2 linked regions of the Homo sapiens genome follow. The protein of the gene in region 1 interacts with the protein of each later gene in a pairwise test. Each region holds a gene or a part of one and is shown in the gene's direction. Other genes may lie near its edges.

Region 1 (7,019 bases):
AGTGATATAACCTCAGGGCCCTGGGGGGTCCACAGCACAGGCAAGGCAGAAACAAGGACCTTGGGCTCTCTGTGGCCTCTGAACTGTAGAAGAATGGACTTTCCCTCTTTGGCTCTGGTGTTTGCCTCCTGCTTCTGTGAAGGACCGGGAGAAAAAGCCTCCTAAGTCCCAAATTATCCGACTTGCTGACAAGTGCAGAGGGCAGGGTAGACAGGACTATTGCTTTTCTTAGTTTACCTCTAGAGTACCCTCTAGAAAGTGTCTTTGAATGCTCAATCCTTGCAAAGGTTTCCATCCTGGTCATTTAAAGAATAGGAGGACAAGGGTTAGGGATGCCGGTTCTGCTGCCATTTGATTTGACTGGGTCTGAACTGGGCTGGGGCCCAGTGACTCAGTGGGAGGGTGGATAGTTTTGAGGGAGCTGTGAGTCATGGGGTTGAGCTCCATCACAAGAGTTGGGCTCATTTCCCCCATTCTGGGCAGAAGCTCTCCTATCCCACTTCCCTGTATGCTCTGTCTCCTTGAACATGGGCCTGTGAGTAGAAAGAGTGCTGGCAGGCTGATCTCAGAAAGGGAGTTCAGAGGCACAAAGAATAATGCTGGTCCCTGAGATTAAAATGTATCCCTATCTTAGGAACCCGTGGGGCTCCTCTAAAGAAGGCAAAAGAACATCAATTTAAGAGTAACAGAGGGAAAAGTACCACTTCTTAACATGGAAGGAGATAGGGTCCCACCTCAGGCCTTTTTCTTCTCTGGCATGGAGGAAGCTTCCTGGGCTTCACTAGTTCTCCAGCTCTGAAGCTTTGGTTTGGAAGGTGGGGAAAGACAAATGGGAGTGAGGTATTTGGGGTCTGGGGTCTGGTATAGACAGCAGGCAGACTTTGAGGGTTGTCAAACCGTATCTTTAAAGCCCTCGGGCTTCCTATTAACCGTCCTGGAAGGAGGAAGGGCGGGGGAGTAGGGCGGAGGGGTAAGATGTGGAAGGCCTACGCCTTTGAAAGGGTTAAATGGCAGGGCAGGGTGTTGCTTTGGACTCCGGCAGCTGTCGGGTTAAGGAGAAGGGCGGAGCGACCTTGGGTAAGCCTACCCCCTTATGGACCAATAGGCGTGTGCCTCTTGGAGGGGGCGTGCCTCGCACTTGAGGTCGCGGGGAGGCTGGCTTCCTATGGACCAATGAGCATGGTCGCTTTCCAGGGAGGGCGTAGCCTGAGGGGGGCGTGGCGGCCGTGGCCGCCGCGGCGCGGGTGGTGGGGCACTGGGCGGGGCGGGCGGCCCCATCAGCTGGTAGGAAATGGCCTGTGAGTCAGAGGGGCAGTGGAGTCGGCGGCGCGGAGCCGGGGCGGCCCCGGGGAGGGACCGTCGCAGGGAGGGGCGCGGCAGCGGCTGGGGGGCTGCGGGCGCCAGGGCCCGCTAGTGTTGCACACGAAGCTGAACAGCGAAGAGCCTAGCAGAGCAGGGCTCAGCCTGAGCCACCCTTTGTCTGGGTTGGGGGCCCGTGGCAGGGAGGACCGGGGAACCAAGGGGAGGGACCGGGACGGGACGGGACGGAAGGGCCCGGAGCAGCGGCCACCTCCGCGGAGCCAATTTGGGAGCGGGGTGAGTGTGCTAGAGGGAAAGAGCAAATCTCCGAAGCTCCAGTATAGTATGGGGCCTGTCCCAGGCTGTGGGGAGGAGAGGAGTGAGAAGGGACCTGGGAGGCTGGGCAGGGGGTAAGGGATCGTCCAGAAGAAGGAGTCCAGGAGTCAGGTGAGTCTGCCTGGCTTAGTTTAGAGAGTCTGCTAAGGTCTGCTCTCTCCCCTCTGAAGATAGAGGGCTCTAGGCTGGGGGCCGAGGGGTTGGTAAGAGAGAAGAAGTCGACCTTCCTACCCACAGTGGTGGTCCGTGGGAACAGCCCCCCTAGCTTGTGTGGATGTATGTAGGGACAAAATAGAGAGCAGCTGGCAGCAGTTCTCTTTGCATAGGATGAGGGTGGAAAGCACATGGATAGGAATTCATCCTGTCACTCTCCTTGATCATGGTAGAAATGGAAATCTTTAATACTGAAGGGAAGGGGAGAATGAGCCTTGAAGCTGATACCTATACCAATACCCACCTCACCCACCTCCCAGGCCTCAAAAGTGTCTAAAGGTACAGACGTATTCTGGGACTTGTTGTTTTTGCTGGCCTTGCTCCCTCAGCATGTTGGGAGCTGTAGTCCTTGCCAGCCACAGCCTGGCACAGCTGTTTGATGCCAGCTGCTGCCCACCCCCTGAACGAAGAGTGAGGCTTGGCCTACTCTGCCCTGCCCCCCTCCCCTGCAGTCCTGCCCCATGAGTCAGCTTGAAGCCATGGTCTAGAGCCAGACTGGCTGGGTGGCAGGGGAGTGAATATAGAGCGTCTTGTTGACAGGGTGGGAACTGAGAGGGCTCTGGGGTTAATAAGCAGATGCCAGGTATGCTGGGGTCAAGTAGGGCATCATGTCATCCCCTGGCTTCCCCAGGGCAAGGGGTCAAGAGGGCAACTGGGATGACCTGGAAGTGGTGGTGCTAGGGAAAAGGCCCCTCCTGAATCTGTATGGCTTGGGTGGAGGAAAGAAGGGTAGAAATTAGTGCAGGTTGTACCTTCTGACAAGGTTGGTTGCAGGTAGGATAGTGCAGGTTGCGATTGGTGTTCTGCCCTTTCCAGCCATCCCGCCCACCACAGGGAACCAGGATTTTCTTAGGGATCCCAATTCTTAGGAGAATTTGGTGAAATGGGATAGTGGGGTACAATGATGGGAACTTGGTGTAGGAGAGCTTTTCAGTCCCTGGGTACAAATCTCTCCTTTCTGCCTGCTCCCCACCCCCACCTCTGTTCCTGATTTTCCCTTGTACAATTAATCTCTCTGCTTCTCTCATCTGGGAAATTTTTCTCTCCACTCTCAGGACTGCTGCTCAGATGTCTGGGACTTGCATTCTACTTTTTTTGAGCCCTGCTGTGTGCTTACCCCTGTACTTGGGGTTGGATGGAGGGGTGGGACACAGATCTGTCCTCAGGAACTCTATGGTCGGTCTAGAAGATGCCTTACCCACAGGAGTGAGCAGAACTGTTAGTGAGCTTACAGGAAGTAGTAACACTGCCATAGGTGAGGTCTCAGAGAAGGGAGAGATGCTTATGGTCTGGGGTGGACAGAGCAGACTTTCTGGAGGAGATGGCATTTGACCTATCCAAGGAGGAAAAGTCTTGGGTAGGCATTCAAAGGGCACTTCTTGAAGGGGAAAGAGCACCGTGAATGTCAGACAGCAAAAGAGAAGGCTGACCCTGGGGGCAGCTGGCTTTCAACTTGACATTCCCCTCACCCTAGTATGGGCTGGAATAGTTAGTGAAGACCATCTTATGCACCCGTGGTTTGGGGTTTTGGTGTTGGGTGTGTGAGCACTGGGGGAGGGGCGTGGAGAGGTACTCCCTAGTTGCTTCCAGCTGACTGACTGCTGCGGCCTTATCTCTAGTTTGCAGGGCCTTGCGGGAGGGCCCTGGAAAGTGCCTTCTGGCAGTGACCCCTTCCCCTTCCCCTTCTTGTTTTTGGTCGGATTTGTTGCCTCTTGTTAAAGAGACAGGCTGCTGGAGGCAATTTGGAGTTCAGGGCTGAAAGGCCAGCTCTGAGCTGACTTGAAATTTGTACCTCTGAGGACCGCTGATGGGGTATAACTGTGTGGGAGACCTCTGCCCTTAGTGCCCTAGGATGGCACTTGTCCCTTTGGAGATAGACATATAAGAAGGAGTTGTGCAATTTGGTGGCTTTGAGTAAGAAAGCTGAATTCTTCCCCTGGCCGCCTCTCAGCTGACACGGTCTCTTGGATCTTGGGGGTCTCTCATCCCTTCCTCCATGTAGGGCAGGAGTCCTCAAATGGTGGCCCTGACAAGTAGTTATTCTACCTCAACTCACTTGTCACATCCTTATTATACTGAGCCAAGACCTGCCTCTTTGACTCCTTAGGTAGCCCAACTCTGCCATCTGTGCCCTGGACCCCAAGCCTACCCTTTCTGTTCCTGAAGAGCCTCTCACATGGGAGAAGGATGTCCTGGAGTGTACTATTAGCCTATAATTGGTGACAGGCCTTACCGCTGGCTCCAGTGATCCTGGCTTACGTCTGTTCTTCTCTCCTCAGGGTCCTGCTGAGCTCAGGAGCTGCACGGAATGGTGGCAGTCACCTTGCCAGTGCAGCAGGCATGGATCAGACTGCAAGCTAGGGGCACGAGGCATCAGTTGGGAAGAGGGGACGCACAGCTAGGCTTGAGGCCTCTTCATCGGGGTAAGTACCAGGGAGAAGAGGGGGAAGTGTGTCCAGTAAGAAGCCTGAGCTAAACCTGTCACCCTCTCAGGAGTTCTGAGAGTGGTCTCTATATTCCATTAGTCCATCCAGGGATTTGTACACATTCATCCTTGGGAACCCATCAAAGTCACCCCTTTAGGCAAGGAGAGGGTCTGAAACTCAGCTGGAAGGAAGAAGACTCATTGATTCCCCTGACCACCTTTTCTTCTCTTCTCTTACACAGATGTCCCCAGGCCCCCCAGCCCAGGCCCAGCATAAAGGCCGTGTTGGGGGGCCCCCCTGACCCAAGGGGGGCTTCATGCGCCACGTGCAGGCGGAGCCGTCTCCATCCTCAGAGCCGGAGGCTGGCCCTTCACAGCCTCCAGTCAGGCAGGGGGCCCTCCAGGGTGGCCTGCTCATGGGCTACAGCCCAGCAGGGGGGGCGACATCCCCCGGGGTCTACCAGGTATCCATCTTTTCCCCTCCGGCTGGTACCTCTGAGCCTCATAGGGCCCTGAAACGACAAGCCCCATCCACTGAGGGTCCCCGGGAGCTGAAGAGAGGCCCTGGGCTGGGGGCCAGAGAGGGACTACCCCCTGAAGAACCATCTACTGTGGGGCTCTTAGGCCCAGAGGGACCGGGGCTGGGACTAGGTGTGGCCAGCCAGCATTTCTCCCACCGTGGCCTCTGTGTTGTGGAACAGAGAAGTAGTGTCACCTCATCTTGGACTTCGGGGGCCTGGAGTCCCCCCTGCCCCCCATCAAATGCTTCCTGCAATACTTTGCACACCAGAGACTGGGCCTCCCCAGATCCAGGGGGACAGGGGTCCCTGGGGGAGTCCCCAGGGCCAGCCCCTCCAGGCCAGCTGCACACACTTGACACTGATTTGCACAGTCTTGCACAAATAGGGGGTAAGAGCCCAGTGGCTGGGGTGGGCAATGGGGGTAGCCTCTGGCCTAGGGAGTCCCCTGGCACTGCCAATGGGCACAGTCCCGAGCACACACCCCCTGGCCCTGGACCCCCAGGCCCCTGCCCCACCAAGCGAAGGCTGCTTCCTGCTGGAGAAGCCCCAGATGTCAGCTCTGAGGAAGAGGGGCCAGCCCCTCGGAGGCGCCGGGGATCCCTGGGCCACCCTACTGCTGCCAACAGTTCTGATGCCAAAGCCACACCCTTCTGGAGCCACCTGCTGCCTGGGCCCAAAGAGCCTGTTTTGGTAAGCCAATAAAGGACCTCATTTACTCTTTTTTTACTTTTTTTTTTTTTTTTTTTTTTTTGAGATGGGATCTCACTCCATCACTGCTGGAGTGCAGTGGCACAATCTCAGCTGACTGCAACCTCCTCCTCCCAGGCTCAAGGGATCCTCCAACCTCAGCCTCCCAAGTATCTGGGACCACAGGCACATGACATTGCACCCAGCTAATTTTTGGTATTTTTGGTAGAAATGGGGTTTCGCCATGTTGCCCAAGCTGGTCTCGAACTCCTGAGCTCAAATCATCGACCCACCTTGGCCTTCTAAAGTGTTGTGATTACAGGCGCTCAAGCCACTGCGCCTGTCCTTCATGTACTCTTAAGTGGATATTTGTGTGGGTAAAGGTGGAGGCCTGGGGGGCAGGGTGTTCCTTTGAGAGTTTGTGATGAGCTTCTGCCCCAAAACATACATGGCCTTCACCCTGTGTCTTTTCCCAATCATTTCTCTCCGTAGGACCCAACAGACTGCGGTCCCATGGGGCGGAGGCTGAAAGGAGCCCGTCGCCTGAAGCTGTAAGTGACCAGCTTTTTCCTCTACCCTGTCCCTGAGAATGGGGGCAGAAGTCTGTACTCTTTCCAGCATCCGAGTAGGGGACCCCAGGGCAGAAGCCCTACATAGTGGCAGAGGGTGGAGTCCAAGGGCATAAGCAGGAATCCCAGAATACCTCAAGCCAACCCCCTGTGTTTCCCTTCCTCTACCAGGAGCCCCCTTCGAAGCCTCCGGAAGGGGCCAGGCCTGCTGAGCCCCCCCAGTGCCTCCCCTGTTCCTACCCCTGCTGTCAGCCGTACCCTGCTGGGCAACTTTGAGGTAGCTCCCGTTGGGGTTTGTGATTGCCGGGGTCCTGGGAGAGGTGGGATGGTGGAATGTGGCTTGGATGGATAAGGAAAAGAATTGGCATCTCTCTCTTCATGTGTTTTCCCTACCCTAATCCCAGGAATCATTGCTGCGAGGACGTTTTGCACCATCTGGCCACATTGAGGGCTTCACAGCAGAAATTGGAGCTAGTGGGTCATACTGCCCCCAGCACGTCACGCTGCCTGTCACTGTCACATTCTTTGATGTTTCTGAGCAAAATGCCCCGGCTCCCTTCCTGGTATGCCTTGACTCCAACCCCAAAGTCAGCTCATCAAGAGGATGAGGATTTGGGGGCGGGGCCAGGGGGCAAGAGGTATTTCTTACTTATTCCTCACCTAGAAGTGAGTCAGGGCCAGGTGAGGAGAACTCTACTGTAGGGCAGGGGCAGGTTCAGGGTGAGAGCTTGTGGAGAGGGACATGTGTTTAGGGCCCAGGGTTTTCCTAGTCCCCACCTTGACTGATGGCTCCCTGGCCTTCCAGGGCATCGTGGATCTGAACCCCTTGGGGAGGAAGGGTTACAGCGTGCCCAAGGTGGGCACCGTCCAAGTGGTGAGTTTGCCCTGAGGGAGTGGGAGTGGGGAGAGAGGAAAGCAGCCCTCAGGCCCTACCAACCTTGACTGTCCTGTCCCTAGACCTTATTTAAC
Region 2 (7,046 bases), on another chromosome or scaffold:
CAGCAAAATAGCTATAAACAGAAGGACGATAAAAACCTCTGACATCTGTGCTCTGTGAATCACTCGCAAAACACTTTCACACCTGGTTCTCCTTTTTTGTCTTCCCCTTTTAATTAATTAATTTATTTATTTATCTATTTTTTTGAGACGGAGTCTCACTCTGTTGCCCAGGCTGGAGTGCAGTGGTGCAATCTCGGCTCACTCCAACCTCTGCCTCCCGCATTCAAGCAATTTTCATGCCTCAGCCTCCCAAGTAGCTTGGACTATAGGCGTGTGCCACCACGCCCGGCTAATTTTTTGTATTTTTAGTAGAGACGGGGTTTCGCCATGTTGGCCAGGTTGGTCTTGAACTCCTGACCTCAGGTTATCCACCTGCCTCGGCCTCCCAAAGTGCTGGGATTACAGGCGAGAGCCACTGCGCCCAGCCTGTCTTCCTCTTTTTAACCACTGTCTTGGGAGGATCATCATCCTCACTCCACAGACACCAAGGCTCAGAGACAAAGGGTGACATGTCCAAGGTCCTCCAGCTAAAAGAGTGGAGCTGGGATTTGAGCTGGAGCCACCCTGGGCTAGGGGAGCTCCAATCTCTGTTACAGCTGTTGGGTTTGAAGGATGCTGTTTTTCCAAAACCAAAATTCAGGACCTAGACACGGCCTGGTGATTCCAGCCCTGTGGAGGAAACTCAGGCCACTGCCACTGTCCCTGTTGAGGCCCTCCTCATCTCTTCCCTGAGACACCCAACCCTCTTGACCCCCTCTGCTCATGCAAGTCCTCTCCTCCTGGATCCAGAGAAAGTTTCATCTCATACTAAAGCCGCAGCGATTTCTGCAAGCACCAGATTTGCAGCCAGGTATTGCGCTGGACATCGTGGCCAATTCAGAGAAGGGCAAAACAGAGCACCTGGCCCCGAACCAGGGGCTTCCTGTCCAGCTGGAAAAACAAGAAGTGCTTACTTGGGTGATAGAATAAGGTACTTGAACTTTCTTTTCCCTCAAATAGATTCCTGGTCCCAACCAGACCCCCTCAATTGACTGGGACATGTTCCTCTGCTGTGTGGGCTGATTCCAGTGACCCCCTCTGCTAAAAAAGCTAAGCAGGTTGTGACATTTTCACACCAACAGTATTACAAAGCAATCTGATTTCCTTTTTCTTGTCTGTCACAATGACACCTGTTGATGGATTCTAAGTATACTATGGAAGATGGGGGTGCCAGAGATTAGAAAGTAAGTTGAGAAAAAGGCCAGGTGCAGTGGCTCACAACTGTAATCCTAGCACTTTGGGAGGCTGAGGTGGGTGGATCATCTGAGGTCAGGAGTTCGAGACCAGCTTGATCAACATGGTGAAACCCCGTCTCTACTAAAAATACAAAAAATTAGCCGGGCATGGTGGTGGGCGCCTGTAATCCCAGCTACTCAGGAGGCTGGGGCAGGAGAATCGCCTGAACCCGGGAGGCAGAAGTTGCAGTGAGCTGAGATCGCACCACTTAACTCCAGCCTGGGCGACAAGAGGGAGACTCCATCTCAAAGAAAAAAAAAAAGAAAGAAAGAAAAGAAAAGAAAAGAAAAAAATTGCAAAAATTAGCCAGGCGTAGCTATGAGCTGTAAGCCCCAAATTTAAAGGGGATAAAAACCTTGCCAGACAAAATACAAGCATGTAATAAATTAATCACTGCAGAATTGGCTCAGGAAAACCATGAAGAGATTTCACAAGGCAAATACACAGCAAATTGCTGAACAAATGATTCAAATAGCAACTGCTCAGGAGCTCAGCTCAGAAAAGGGAGCAAGATATATGAGCTGAGATTGTCTGCTAAGGCTGCCGGGAAGAGGTGAATTAGAGCGGAGCCTGCAGGCAAGGGATGAACAAGGCAGAAAACAGGGGCATCTTCCCCAACCTGAGAAGAAGGGCCAGAGTGGGTAGGGGGTTTTGAGGTCAGAGTGACAGCTGTGCCATGCAAATTGTTTACAAAGCACTCACACCTGTTTCTCCTTTTAATCTTTTGTTTCTGAGATGGAGTCTGGCTCTGTCACCCAGGCTGGCATGCAATGGCGCGATCTCGGTTCACTGCAATCTCCGCCACCCGGGTCCAAGCGATTCTCCTGCCTCAGTCTCCTGAGTAGCTGGGATTACAGGTGCATACCACCATGCCTGGCTAATTTTTGCATTTTTAGTAGAGACGGGGTTTCACCATGTTGGCCAGGCTGGTCCAGATATATGATCTAGATCTTATACCAACTCCTGATCTCATGATCCACACTCCTCAGCCTCCCAAAGTGCTGGGATTACAGGCGTGAGCCACCGCGCCCAGCCTCTCCTTTTAATCTTGACTTTCACAAATACCTGGTGGCAGGTGTCATTTCCCCATTCTACACGTACCTGAGGCTCAGAGTGAGACAGCGACTCACCCAAGATCTCCCAGCTACAAAATGGCAGAGCCTGGGCCTGAGCTAGCATGGTCATGGGCTGGAAGAGCCACAATCCATGTTAAGGCACCTGGGTTTGGAGACTGCTGCCTTTTTTTTTTTTGAAACGGAGTCTCTCTCTGTCGCCCAGGCTGGAGTGCAATGGCCTGATCTCGGCTCACTACAACCTCCCTCTCCTATTTTCAAGCGATTCTCCTGCCTCAGGCTCCCAAATAGCTGGAATTACAGGTGTGCGCCACCGCACCTGGCCTTAGACTGCTGCTTTTTGAAACCAAAATTCTGGCCTGGAAACAGAGCTTGGTTTTCCCAGCCCCAGCCCTGCCGCTATGATACCAGAGGAAGAGGCTTCCCAGGGCCTCCGTTTCCTTGCCTGCACAATGTGGCTGGCAAGATTTGGTCTTCTCTCACAGGGTGGTGGTGAGCTTTCAAATCCTGTGAAAGTGATCTCACAGGAGAGCAGTGGACACGTGGGAAGGCTGTTATTGTCACGGCATTCTGCACATCTGTCCGGACTCAATTAGCCACCTAAGGAGAGAGTAGGGCGGGGCTTCCACCGGCCGTGGGATATGTGGATAATCATCCTTCTGTATCTTTCTTCCATGGCTCCTGGGGCAGCTGGGGAAGCAAGCTGGATGGGCCTGGCCCCATGCTGCCGGATGAGGTGGATGCCTGGCTGTGGCTCTGGGAGAGCCAACCTCCCCCAGGGAACCCACTTTACACAATAGCAGTGGCAGCAGAGGCTGGCGAGGAGACAAGATTCGGACTCTGGGGAGCACTGATAGCATTTCCCGAGCCTCAGGTACATGCGGACCGTGACCCTCCCTGGGACCCCAGGGGGGCTGCTCCTCAGGACTAAGGAAGGAGGAGGGGGTGTGAGAAACCTTTCACCATATACCATAGAAAGCATTTACCTCAATGGCCTTGGTTTACATATGGGGAAACTGAGGCACATAAAGGGAAGGGAGCATGTCCAGTCTGTCCTTAATAGCAAGACCCACTGAATACACCTCTCCTGGCTCTCTGTTTAGTGTTTGGACGTTCAAAGATCCCTAGACTAGGCGGCGGGAGTTTCAGGGCCACGATCCAGATCTTACACCAACTGTGTGTGGCCCCGCACAAAATCACTCCCCGCTCTTTGGCACTTAAGTTGGCGAAACTGGGATGGGCTGGGACCTCAAAGGGCCATTCTAGTAGGGGAGTCACAGGCCCAGGTGGTGAAGGGGTGAAAGGGCATGATGTCTTGGGGTTTATAGTCCACTGAGCCTCGCCGGAGGTAACCCCGGCTCAGGGATGCTTTCGTTGCCATGGCAACCGCCGGGCCGGCGCGGGCCCCTGAGTGCAGCTGAGGAAGCTGGGACAAACCCTGCCCTTCCCAAGATGGCGGCGGCGGCAGGGCAAAGGGCGGGGTTAGACGCTGTCAGCCTGTCCAGACCGTTCCTCTGTTTTCGCTTGTTCCTACTAACAGCGAGCTTCCGCCAATACTTGTTCTCGTTCTTGGTTCCGAGCGTCCCGGGAGCCGGGAAGGGAAGGATTGTCTGCAGGGATTGGAGCAAATATCCAGTGGGGGGAAAGCCGGGACTTCCGCGTCTTGCCGGAAGTGACGTGACAATCGCGGCCACCGCCAGGTGGAACGGCAGGTGGGTTCAGGTACCAGCCTGGCCGGGACCCGGCTGTGGGACCAACGCTTCCGGTGAGCGACAGAGGCAGCTCCCCAGGGCCTGGAGACCCGTGGGGCGGACTCTGGGATCTGAGCCTATCGCCCTGGCCTGGAGCCCCCCTTTGTACCTAGTAAGAATCACCTACCCAGCCCCCCACCCGGAGACTGTCCCATCCCACTCCAGAGGGAAGAGGAGGGCACTGCTGTCCCGTATGAGGTGGTGGAGGGAGGGGTGGCGTTGGCATTTAGGCACTTGGGTTCCTTAAATCCTATGCTCCTTTCTCTCCCGGATCCAGTTCCCCATTCCCCTACCGAGCTGGGCAGTTAGCCAGCCCACTCCAACTCTCGGAACCATGTTTGCAGACTTGGATTATGACATCGAAGAGGATAAACTGTGAGTATTTTATTCCCCCAAGTTCCAGCAGTATAGGAGCCCCAAGTTCCTCATTTCCCTGGACTTCCCAGTCCCACAGACCCTTGCTTCTCAGCGGTGGATCAGTTGTTGTACTGAAGCAGCAATGGACCCTGCTCTCCCAGGAGCTCACTATTTGTAGGGGGCTGTGGACAGTTAAAGGGATAATCACAGCTCAGTGCCATAAGGGCACTATTAGCATGACTTGGTGACAAGAAGAGCAAAGCAGATGGAGCAGTGCTTCTGCTGGGATGGTCAAGGAAAGCTTCATGGAGGACGTAGCAATTGAACCAGGTTTTGAAGGTTGAATAGGAATATTGTAGACACCCTTCCTTCCCAACATAGGTTGTTAGTAGGACAGATTTTCCCATTAGAATATATCCTCTTTCAGATCAAGGAGTGGGTGCAATGCCTTTCTCTATGCTCAGCACTTAGTAAGGGACTTGACGTCAGTAGGTTGTTAGCGAATGTTTTTTGAATGAATAAGTGAATCAGCGTGAGTACTTATCATAAAACACCAGTCAATGCTAATTTATAGTGGAAACCGAGAGGTAATCGAGCAGTTGAGAGGTGGGAGGTGGACAGTTTAATAGAGGAAGACTCCCTGGAGTAGGTGGCCATCATACTACATAGATGCCTGATAAGGTGACAAGGACAGAACCTGGCTCAAATCTCAGAGATCGAATAAATGAAAGGGAAGGGGGACCTATTTTTATGGAGTGCCTGCTATGGACTGGGTTGCTGTTAGTGCCCTCCATGCATGGTTAGAAGAACTCTGATAAGGGTGCTCATCCACATTTTATGGATGAGGAAATTGAGATGCACAGAGGCTGACTTACCCAAGTCCCATAGCTGGCCAGGCACGGTGGCTCACGCCTGTAATCCCAGCACTTTGGGAGGCTGAGGCAGGCGGATCAACTGAGGTCAGGAGTTCAAGACCAGCCTGGCCAACATGGTGAAACCCCGTCTCTACTAAAAATACAAAAAAATCAGCCAGGCGTGGTGGCAGGCACCTGTAGTCCCAGCTACTTGGGCGACTGAGGCAGGAGAATCACTTGAACCCGGGAGGCGGAGGTTGCAGTGAGCCGAGATTGCGCCATTGCACTCTAGCCTGGGCAACAAGAGTAAGACTCCATCTCAAAAAAAAACCAAGTTCCACAGCTGATAAATGGCAGAGCTGGGGTTTGATCCCACATCTGCTTAACTCCAAGAGCTGTGCATGTTCCAGCACAAAATGTTGTTTTGTCCAAGGGAGGGAGAGAAAAAGCTGGGCAGCCAGTGGAGCCCCTCAGGAGTTTTAGAGGGCCCACCCGCTCCAGTCATCCTTCTGCCAGGAGAGTCAGCCTAGCTTGCTTTCCTTTCTAGCGGAATCCCGACTGTGCCTGGGAAGGTGACCCTGCAGAAGGATGCTCAGAACCTGATCGGGATCAGCATTGGAGGAGGGGCCCAGTACTGTCCCTGCCTCTATATCGTCCAGGTATTGGGCGCTTTGGAGGGGGGCACAAGGTACATCCCTACTTGGGCATGACAAAGGCAGGTTCATTTCTCCACACTGCATAGCTGACTCCTTCTCATTCTTGAGGTCTGACCCTCTCAGAGGGGCTTTCTGACCACCTGCGCTGCGTTGCTCTGCCCTGTCTTCTCCCCTGTGTCGCTCTGTTTTTTTCCTTCTCGGCACTTATTACTTGTTATTTGCCCTCTGTCTAGTAGAGTAGACTCTTTGCACTGAGGGCAGTGTCCTGGTTTGCTTTTTCACTGCAGTAAGCACCAGGTACAGTGCCTGGCACATAGTGGACATGCAATAGAAATTGACTATTGAATCAACAAAACCATCAGCCTTGCGTACTAGCCAAAATGAAGTGTCATAGGAACACGATGAAATAATGGCCTGAGTTCAAATGCAAGCTTCTTTCCTACTTACTAGCAAGTTACTTAACCTCTTTGGGCCTCAGTTTCATCACCTAGAAAGCGGGGATTTAAAACATGTAGACACAATCATCTCTGGGTTCTTGTGAGAAGTCAACAAAACGACCTAACACACTAGAAGTTAAGAAACGTGCATTGGCCAGGCATAGTGGCTCACACCTGTAATCCCAGCACTTTGGGAGGCCGAGGTGGGTGGATCACGAGGTCAGGAGTTCGAGACCAGCCTGGCCAACATGGTGAAACCCCGTCTCTACTAAAATACAAAAATTAGCTGGGCGTGGTGGTGCACGCCTGTACTTCCAGCTACTTGGGAGGCTGAAGTAGGAGAATCGCTTGAACCTGGAAAGTAGAGGTTGCAGTGAGCTGAGATCACGCCACTGCATTCCGTGCATTCCAGCCTGGGTGACCGAGTGAGACCCTGTTTCAAAAAAAAGAAAGAACCATGCATTAAGCAGTAGCTGCTGCTATTTTCCAGGTAGCTGTACATTTTCCCAGATGCTCTGCCAGTGGTGAGGAACACTCTTGTGTCTCTTGCAGAGGAAGCTGCACTGGTGATATTCTGTCCACTGTAACTCAGGAGTGGTGACAGGCCTGCTGTGGGGCCTCCTTCACTGTGTGGCTCATCCAA

What was found. The genes of interacting proteins can lie anywhere in the genome.
Region 2: the proteins of ATOSB (region 1) and PICK1 interact in binary tests that used the Homo sapiens proteins (3 or more experiments, as listed by UniProt).

Annotation. Positions count from the first base shown.
Region 1 is NC_000009.12:35,105,846-35,112,864, reverse strand, and holds part of ATOSB (atos homolog protein B), read left to right. Parts: intron 1-472; exon of another isoform or gene 473-535; intron 536-1,208; exon of another isoform or gene 1,209-1,298; intron 1,299-1,412; exon of another isoform or gene 1,413-1,596; intron 1,597-1,649; exon of another isoform or gene 1,650-3,205; intron 3,206-3,234; exon of another isoform or gene 3,235-3,660; intron 3,661-4,127; 5' UTR 4,128-4,271; intron 4,272-4,515; 5' UTR 4,516-4,590; coding exon 4,591-5,484; intron 5,485-5,973; coding exon 5,974-6,032; intron 6,033-6,221; coding exon 6,222-6,327; intron 6,328-6,454; coding exon 6,455-6,613; intron 6,614-6,855; coding exon 6,856-6,924; intron 6,925-7,007; coding exon 7,008-7,019. UniProt on the Homo sapiens protein: Transcription regulator that may syncronize transcriptional and translational programs.
Region 2 is NC_000022.11:38,053,377-38,060,422, forward strand, and holds the start of PICK1 (PRKCA-binding protein), read left to right. Parts: upstream 1-4,027; 5' UTR 4,028-4,211; intron 4,212-4,376; 5' UTR 4,377-4,433; coding exon 4,434-4,474; intron 4,475-5,857; coding exon 5,858-5,969; intron 5,970-7,046. UniProt on the Homo sapiens protein: Probable adapter protein that bind to and organize the subcellular localization of a variety of membrane proteins containing some PDZ recognition sequence.